2 separate regions of the Homo sapiens genome follow, and region 1 is reported to be linked to region 2. Evidence: microRNA targets listed by miRTarBase, many of them from high-throughput screens and not tested one by one. Region 2 holds a microRNA gene; the other region holds the end of a gene's coding sequence.
The links. Region 2 holds the annotated microRNA hsa-miR-6720-5p (UUCCAGCCCUGGUAGGCGCCGCG, at 1,572-1,594, shown strand). A microRNA usually pairs through its seed, bases 2 to 8, with sites in the 3' UTR of a target mRNA and lowers its output. Matches are read on the target gene's strand: a 7mer-m8 pairs with bases 2 to 8, a 7mer-A1 pairs with bases 2 to 7 and ends in A, and an 8mer does both.

Region 1 (4,000 bases), not on the chromosome of region 2:
CAAGGCTGGCTGGGCGCGGTGGCTCATGCCTGTAATCCCAGCACTTTGGGAGGCCAAGGCGGGCAGATCACCTGAGGTCGGGAGTTTGAGACCAGCCTGGCCAACATGGAGAAACCTCATCTCTACTAAAAGTACAAAATTAGCTGAGTGTGGTAGTGCATGCCTGTAATCCCAGCTACTCGGGAGGCTGAGGCAGGAGAATCGCTTGAACCTGGGAGGAGGAGCCTACGGTGAGCCGAGATTGCACCATTGCACTCCAGCCTGGGCAACAAGAGTGAAACTCCATCTCAAAAAAAAAAAAAAAAAGTCAAGGCCTTTGGCGCAACAACTGTGCTGGGAAACAGAGACTCCTGCACAGGCGCATGTGGCCTGTGCCGTCTTGGCCACAACAGCAAAAACCAAAGTATCCAAATGCCCAGGTGGAAAACCTTACCATGTTGAAAACTTTATTGTGGAGTCTCTAAAGAGAGAGAAACTTACCAAATATTAATATGATGGTCAAGACATGAATTTGTATGTATAGAATGATTACAATTATGTAGAAAAATACACCACACACTCGAGGCCTGGGGTTACTGGACACGGGTCATTTCTTCCCTGACTACATCATGGATTCCGGTCCAGAACTTCCAGATTGTCTACAAAATGCCTATCTTCATTTTTTTCACAAAAAAAAATTTAAACAAACACAAACACCCCACCCCCCTCCTCCAGGTGCTCTTATGAAGATCAAATGAGGTATTGATGTGACGGCTCTGGGTCTCAGTTTCCTCGTCTGTTAAATGCATATGAGAATTATCTAAGGTTCCTTCCTGCCCTTCTCTGGGGACCACAGGCCAGGAGGAGAACCTTGCATACAACCCCTCATTTTTCAGAAGAAAAAACTGAGAACTCAGGGGAAACTTCCTACCGGCTGGCGGGGCCAGCTGGGACAGAGAGATGCCCAAGGTTTGCATGTCTGAGCCCCAGAGGGGTTTCACCCACCCTCGGGGTTTTCACCTGCTGAGCTAACCCTGGCTGTAGCAAAAGATGGGGTGGGAGATGGGGGTGTCCAGGAGAAGATGGGGTGGGGGAGATGGGGTGGCCAGGAGAAGATGGGGTGGCCAGGAGAAGATGGGGTGGGAGATGGGGTGGCCAGGAGAAGATGGGGTGGGAGATGGGGTGTCAAGAGAAGATGGGGTGGGAGATGGGGTGGCCAGGAGAAGATGGGGTGGGAGCTGGGGTGGCCAGGAAAAGATGGGGTGGGGCAGATGGGGTGGCCAGGAGCAGCTCAGACTCCCCCAACTCCAGATGGAAGGGGAGTGGATGGCTGGGCCCATGTGGGCCTGACCCCACCAAACCTCTCCCACACCTACTGCTTGTCACTTGACCTCACCCTGTCACCTGGCTCCCTGGGGGCAGGGGCATCTGAGATGGGTTCATGGAGCAAATAGCCAGGCAGAGACCTGGATGTGAGTGGCCACTGTCTTCCAAGCTGGGCACACAACAGGTCCTTGGGACAGGAAGCACTGAGTCCAGAGGCCTGGCAAGGGACAGGAGGGGCAGGAGAAGCAGGGGTCTACAGGTGGCTCTGGTGGCAGCTCAGGGGGAGGCAGGCAGAAAACATCTGATGCACAGAACAGAACATGCCCAGGGCCCAAGAGTGGGAAAACAGCACCCAGAACTCCACCTTCTGACTCCTAGTCCAGTGCTCCCTTCCAAAGATGCTAAGCTGCAACAAGTTCCAAGGAAGCTGCCCAGGGCGAAGTCCAGGTCAGGAGGTTCTGACCCTGTGCAGGAGGGCAGGTAGGAGGCGGCTGACTGAGTGCACAGTGTCGTCCAGGAGTGGAAAGAGATGGTCTTGTCCCCAGACCCCAGAGCAAGGAACACCATTGTAAGAGGAGGGAGCAGCTTCCACTGTGACGGTGGGTGACCAGGGGGCTGGCACAGGATGGCCAAATAAGCCCAGCACTGGGGGGCCAGTGCTTCAGGGGAACAAGCCAGAGAGAGAAGGGAGTTCAAGGGACCTCATGTCCACCTGGTTCAAGGTCACACGCCTGCCCTGGCCTCTACACAAAGGAGCCTCCTGTAGGTCCCAGCCCTTCCATGTTTATGGCTAAATGTGCTGTGTCTTGGAGCAGCTGGAACCCCAGGTGGACCCTGAGAGAGCTACCTGCCAGCATGTTCCTTCAGCTCGAGTTTGGAGTCCAGCCCTGGAGGCTGCGCACCTCCTCCCAAATGCAGGCTTGTGGCTCTGGAAGCTGCCACTGGGGTCAAAATGGCATCTTAGGTTCTGGCAGATTGGGCCAATCTCAGGGTTGACCCTGGGGTACAGATACCTGAGAATCAGCAAAATCCAGCTCAATCTTTTCTCCTTTGTTATTTCTTAAAATAATCTTGTACTAAATCCCAAAGCAAGCGAACCCATGAATTGATTATTCACTGCTGCCATTTGCATCAGTTTAAAAGCAGGACGGCTCTGAGGGCAGGTATTAAAGAAATAGAGGCCAGGCCCGGCGCCTCCTGCCTATAATCCCAGCCCTTCGGGGAGGACTGCCTGAGGCCAGGAGTTTGAGACTGGCCTGGGCAACATACCGAGACCCTGTCTTTAAAAAAAAAAAAAGGCCAGCCACGGTGGCTCACGCCTGTAATCCTAGCACTTTGGGAGGCTGAGGCGGGCGGATCACGAGGTCAGGAGATCGAGACCATCCTGGCTAATACGGTGACACCCCGTCTCTACTAAAAATACAAAAAAAATTAGCCGGGCGTGATGGCGGGCGCCTATAGTCCCAGCTACTCAGGAGGCTCAGGCAGGAGAATGGTGTGAACCCAGGAGGCGGAGCTTGAAGTGAGCCGAAATTGCGTCACTGCACTCCAGCCTAGGCGACAGAGCGAGACTCTGTCTCAAAAAAAAAAAAAAAAAAAAAATTAGCTGGGCAAGGTGGAGCACCTGTAGTCCCACCTACTCAGGAGGCTGAAGCAGAAAGATTGCTTGAGCCCAGGCTGCAATTAGCTGGGGACCCATCGTTGCACTCCAGCCTGCGTGATACAGCAAGACCCTGTCTCAAAAAAAACCAAAACACAAAACAAGGCCGGGCATGGTGGCTCATGCCTGTAATCCCAGCACTTTGGGAGGCCGAGCAGGGCGGATCACGAGGTCAGGAGATCGAGACCATCCTGGCCAACATGGTGAAATCCCGTCTCTACTAAAAATACAAAAATTAGCTGGCTGTGGTGGTGCGTGCCTGTAATCCCAGCTATTCGGGAGGCTGAGGCAGGAGAATCACTTGAACCAAGGAGTCGGAGGTTACAGTGAGGCGAGATCGCGCCACTGTACTCCAGCCTGGCGACAGAGCAAGACTCGTCTCAAAAAAAAAAAAAAAAAAAAAAAAAAAAAATCAAACAAACACAAAAAACCACCCAACTACAAATTAGGCATCCTCCCACTTGGTCTTTTTTCAGATTCATTTTGGCTTAATGGTGCCTTCCCCATTTTAAAAGCGGTCTTTTACTCATAGTGCCCCAGCCTTTTGAAGGCACAGGAACAGGAGCTGGGCTACCACCTTCAAGGGCTGTCAAAGATGGTGAGGTCTGAAGCCAAAGGCAAGCACACCAAACTCCATGGGGGCTGAATGCTGTGGTCTGTAGTGTCTGTGCTTCTGCAGAGTTAGCCTGGTCCCAGAAAGAGGGCATGTGCATGCTGGAGTGAAGAGCTGAATTTGATTTCCAAGCCCCTGGCTGGGGGTCCAGAGGGAGGGCAGGGGCCACCTCCTGCCGGCTCCCTGCTATTGTTGCTCAGGGCCGGCCGTCTTGGTGGTCACCAGTTCAGTGGAGCCCAGCTCTGTGGCTGGCACAGGGACACTGTGGCCAGGTGGGGTGGTTCCTGGGTCTTCCCCAGGAGGAGGCCAGGCAGGAGCTGTGGCATCAGAGATTCCCGGAGACAGAATGATGACCTTGTCCAGGGGCTCTGGGGCTGCAGGCAGAGGGGGTAGAGGCTCCGTACTCAGTCACAGCCTTCCCT
Region 2 (4,150 bases):
TTCCCTCTTCCATCCCTACCGTCCCCTCCCACCTTTCACCGCCTTCAGCAAGTCAATAATTTTTCATAATCTGCAACCAGAACAATGTAAACCAGCCACACTACAAGTGGCATCCACAGGGCAGGCGCATTTCTCAGGGGAGTCCTAGCAGGGTCCTTCAGGTCCTGCCACCCAGGACCTGTATCATCAATGTGGGTCCATTGTTGGGCGGGGGGGGAGGCAGGGAAGGGGAGGAGTCTCCAACAGTTTGGTGACCCCCTCCACTGGCAAATGTCCCTTTAGTGAAAGATCCTGGGATCCAGCTCTGTCCCTCCCACCCCCTCCTCTTAACACTTGCCCAGCTGCAAACATCTCGCTGCAGACACCCCAACATACAGAACATATCTGATTCTGACATTTACTTCGGGACAGAAGTACAGCAAAATGAACGCAAGGAAAAAAAGGGACAAAAGGAACTAGACACAGCTTCCTGACCAAGTTCCCCAAAGGCCAGATGCCTTCTCTCCAAGCTAAGTGAGACTCTGAACGGGAGACCTGCAGTCTCCTGCACAGGGATCCCCAAAGAGCCCAGGAAGGCAGGGGACTTTACACCACGCTCACAGCAGCCAGACAATTCTGAAGCTTCGGCTGCTGGCCAGGGATACTGGGAGGACAGTAAGACCCTGATCCCTGCTCCCACGAATAAGATGCCGGCTTTCCCCAGCATCTGCTTTTCCCAGTGCCCTCAGACCTCCTAGCTTCGGGGTCCCTGTTTGTGGGAGTGGCAGTGGCCGCCAGCCCTGGAGGCCTAGAAGCGGTGCGCCCAGCTGGCTGGGCTGGAGCGTGCTGCGTTACCTGAGAGGTCCTCGCGAGCGTTCTGGTGCAAGTAGCTCTGCTCCAGCGAGTAGGAGGACATGCTGGAGTGCAGGCCTGCCGAGGCGGCGGGGTTGCTGCTGGGCGTCAGGGCAGGCGGCTGCTTGAGGTAAGGCGAGGCGCCAGGCGAGCTCCAGTGCGCCGCAGGGCTCGTGTAGGGCGAGTGGCATTCGATGGCGCTCGCCATGGCCGGGGACGAGGGTACCGGGCTGCTGCTGCTGTCCGGCCCGTAGTCGCCGCCGCCGCCGCCCCCGGCCGCACCGACGCCCCCGGGTCCCGCGGGCACCGGGCAGCTGGCCATGTAGGTGGAACCCGGGTTGGGCGACATGTGCGGGACGTGGTGGTGGTGGTGGTGGTGAGGGTGCGCGTGGCTGGGGGCGCCCGCGCCGGCGTCGTAGCCCGCGGGCATCATGTCGAGGCCGCCGTAGCCGCCCTGGCTGTGGCAGCCGAGCGGCGCCGACGGGGGCGCCTGGAAGTCGAAGCCCTGGGGCAGCAGCGACGCCCCGAAGCCCAAGCCGCTCACCACGCGGTGGTACATGGGCTTGAGCGCCTGGCACTTCCGCCTGAAGCCGCGCGGCCGGCGGCGGAACGAGCCCTCCTCGAACATGAACTCGCTGGCCGGGTCGATGGTCCAGTAGTGGCCCTTGCCGGGCCGCCCGAGGCCCTTAGGCAGCTTGATGAAGCACTCGTTGAGCGAGAGATTGTGGCGCACCGAGTTCTTCCAGCCCTGGTAGGCGCCGCGGAAGAAGGGGAAGCGCGCCTGCAGGAACTGGTAGATCTCGCTGAGCGTCAGGCGCTTGCTGGGCGAGCTCTGGATGGCCATGACGATGAGCGCGATGTACGAGTAGGGCGGCTTCTCGGGCCGCCGCAGCCCCGAGCTCGCCTTCTTGGCGCCCCCGCTCCCGGCGCCCGCGCCGCCGCCGCCCGCGCTCTTGCAGGCAGCCGAGGGGGCGCTGGCCGAATTGGAGGAGGACGAGGACGAGGCGCAGGAGGCGGAGGACGACGACGAGGAGGAGGAGGTGGTCTCCGGGGCGGCGGCGGCGGCGGCGGCGGCGGCGGGCGGCGGGCTCATCAGGGCGGCCTGGAGCGCGCCGGGGACCGGGCTGCACGCGCGGCGGAGCGGGGCCGGCGGCGGCCCGCCCTCGGTGGTCATCTGGGACCCGGGAGCGAGGCCGGGCCGCGAGGGCGGGCCCCGGGCGGGAAGCGGAGGCGCCGGAGCGGGGTCGGCCCAGAAGCCCTGCGAGCGCCCTAGCCCGCCGCCCGGGCTGCAGCCGTGGCCACTCCGGGCCAGCGCTTCGGCGTCGCCTCCCTCAGCTCCTCTGGGGCTTCTGGCGGCGGCGGCGGCGGCGGGCGGGAGGCAACGCCCGGCGCATCCCTCCCCGAGCCGCGGGCCCTGCCTTGCGCAACGGCCTCCCAGGCCGCGGGGCCGAGCGGCCGGCGCCGGGCGACTGCGCCCGCGAGTGGGACCGCGGCCTGGACCCCGGGGACGAGCCCGACGTCTCCCTTCAGGAGCGCTCCTCGCTCTGTCTCTCGGACTTCCTCCCTCCCTCGCCCTCCCCGGCCGCCCTCCTCGCTCCCTCCCTCCCTCCCTCCCCCCCCACCCCGCCCTGCCCCCTCCTCGCTCCGCGCCGCCGCGCTCACTCCTCCCCCTCCCGACCTGGCGGCCGCCTCCCTCTCTTATCTCGCTCCCCGCTCTCCAGGGTCTCCTCGCTCTTCATTCCTCTCGCGGCCTCCTCCCCTTTCCCTCACTCACCCTCTTTCCAATTGAGGGATCACAGACTCACTCCGGTTCTGCCAGGGGGACGACCCCCACCCCTCGCAAAACTCGACCACCTCTGACTTCATGAAATATTCTTTCTGTTTGCCCCCCGCAGCAAGCCCCGCGTCCCATCCCAGGACCCAGCCCCGCCCCTCCGCGCCCCCTTCCTCCTCCTGGCCCGCCGGGCCGAGTGGTGCTGCTGCGGGTGCGGCTGCTCGGAGCCTCCCTGGCCGCCCTCCCCAGGGCCGATACTGACTCCATCTGTCAACTTCGTTTAGACTTTGCCGCCCTCAGCCACACGCCGGGGTGCCAGACGCCCAAAGGTAACGTGCCAATCCTCTCTCTTTCTGGCAGGGCCTGCAGGCTCCCCGACAATTGTTAGGGCGACTGGGGGCCGCCGCAGGGTTGCGGGCCGCTGGCGATCGTGGACGTTTTCGGAACTTTGAGCAGAGGGATTTACACTGAGAAACCTAGGCCAAGTTTCAAAGACTCTGGAAACCTGGATCTCATGGGACTTAGGGTTGCATTTGCTTCCACTTCTTCCCCCCACCCCCGCACCCCAGTTAGTGTTCTGTAAGAAAAAAGTGCAAAAGAAAAAGGAAGGAAGGAAGAAAAGAAAGAAAGAGAAAGAAAAAGAAAGACCCTGAGATAAGCGAGATGGCTATATTTATAGTCAGTCCTGAAGGGGTGTGCAGCTGTCACTAGGTTTACATCCTCCGTCTTAACATTGCCCACCCAAAACTGTGCCAGGTCTCAGCTAACTCCTGTCCGAGAACACTTCTCCCCAGTTGTGGCTAATTCCTCCCTAAGTAAGAGTCAGGCTCTGAGAGAGATGTGCCCTCGGGAGCAATCACTTCCAATGAGACCCGACAGTTAGTTATTGGATTACACGTGCAGGGAAATGTAGTCCGACCAGGGATAGGAGCTGGGAGAGGGAGGAGGAGAGCAGGAGGCCGGAGCTGGCGGGGCCTCCCAAGGGCTGAAGGGGGAGGCCCAGAAAGAAGGTGCTGCAGACCAGCGGACCAAACAGGAGGTAGAGCTGGGCACCCCGCTGCGTCTAGGCTGAAAGGACCGAGGTGCACGGGTGTGCCTGCTGGGGAGCCTGGGGAGTTGCAGGAGGCAGGAGAAAGGGAGGTTGTGCAGTAATCAGGAGGAAGACACCAGGCAAAGAGCCTTCACAGCCGCACAGCCTAGGCAGGCCCCCTGGGGCGGCAGGAGCCCTGTGTGCCCCTGGAGTGCCGGGGGACTGCTCCTGGCTGAGTGTGCTGGTGGGGCTGTAGATGCAGAGAGGGCGGGTGGGGAGGGGAGGGGTATGTGGGAGGGGGGTGGGCCGGGGCTGGCCCCAGACAGTGACCTGAGGTTGAGTGGAAGCAGGCTTTTTCCATCAAACCCTGCCTGGATACCACACACAGAGACCGAGTGTCAGTTTACTGCCCTGAGCCGGCTCCTTCTCCCTAAGCTCCACAGTAATTAGACAAAGAAAACCTAAATTAGCTGAACAGGCGTCGACAGCTTCCTCCAGAGCACCCCTGGTACCTA

Region 1: the mRNA of TNFRSF13C is a reported target of hsa-miR-6720-5p. Seed matches in the 3' UTR shown: 7mer-m8 at 3,317-3,323, 7mer-m8 at 3,013-3,019, 7mer-m8 at 2,853-2,859 and 7mer-m8 at 2,186-2,192.

What each region holds. Positions count from the first base shown.
Region 1 is chr22:41,921,603-41,925,602 of GRCh38, forward strand. TNFRSF13C (TNF receptor superfamily member 13C) reads right to left here. Exons shown (of 3, transcript NM_052945.4): 3 at 430-3,952. The coding sequence ends at 3,765. It overlaps MIR378I (microRNA 378i), which reads right to left and starts at 1,695; the gene lies at 1,620-1,695. RefSeq lists a silencer at 148-197 and enhancers at 668-717, 3,431-3,932, 3,933-4,000.
Region 2 is chr6:1,387,803-1,391,952 of GRCh38, reverse strand. MIR6720 (microRNA 6720) reads left to right here and starts at 1,542; the gene lies at 1,542-1,639. FOXF2 (forkhead box F2) reads right to left here and starts at 2,377. Exons shown (of 2, transcript NM_001452.2): 1 at 835-2,377. The coding sequence starts at 2,005. FOXF2-DT (FOXF2 divergent transcript) reads left to right here and starts at 2,492. Exons shown (of 3, transcript NR_187218.1): 1 at 2,492-2,934. RefSeq lists an enhancer at 330-1,195.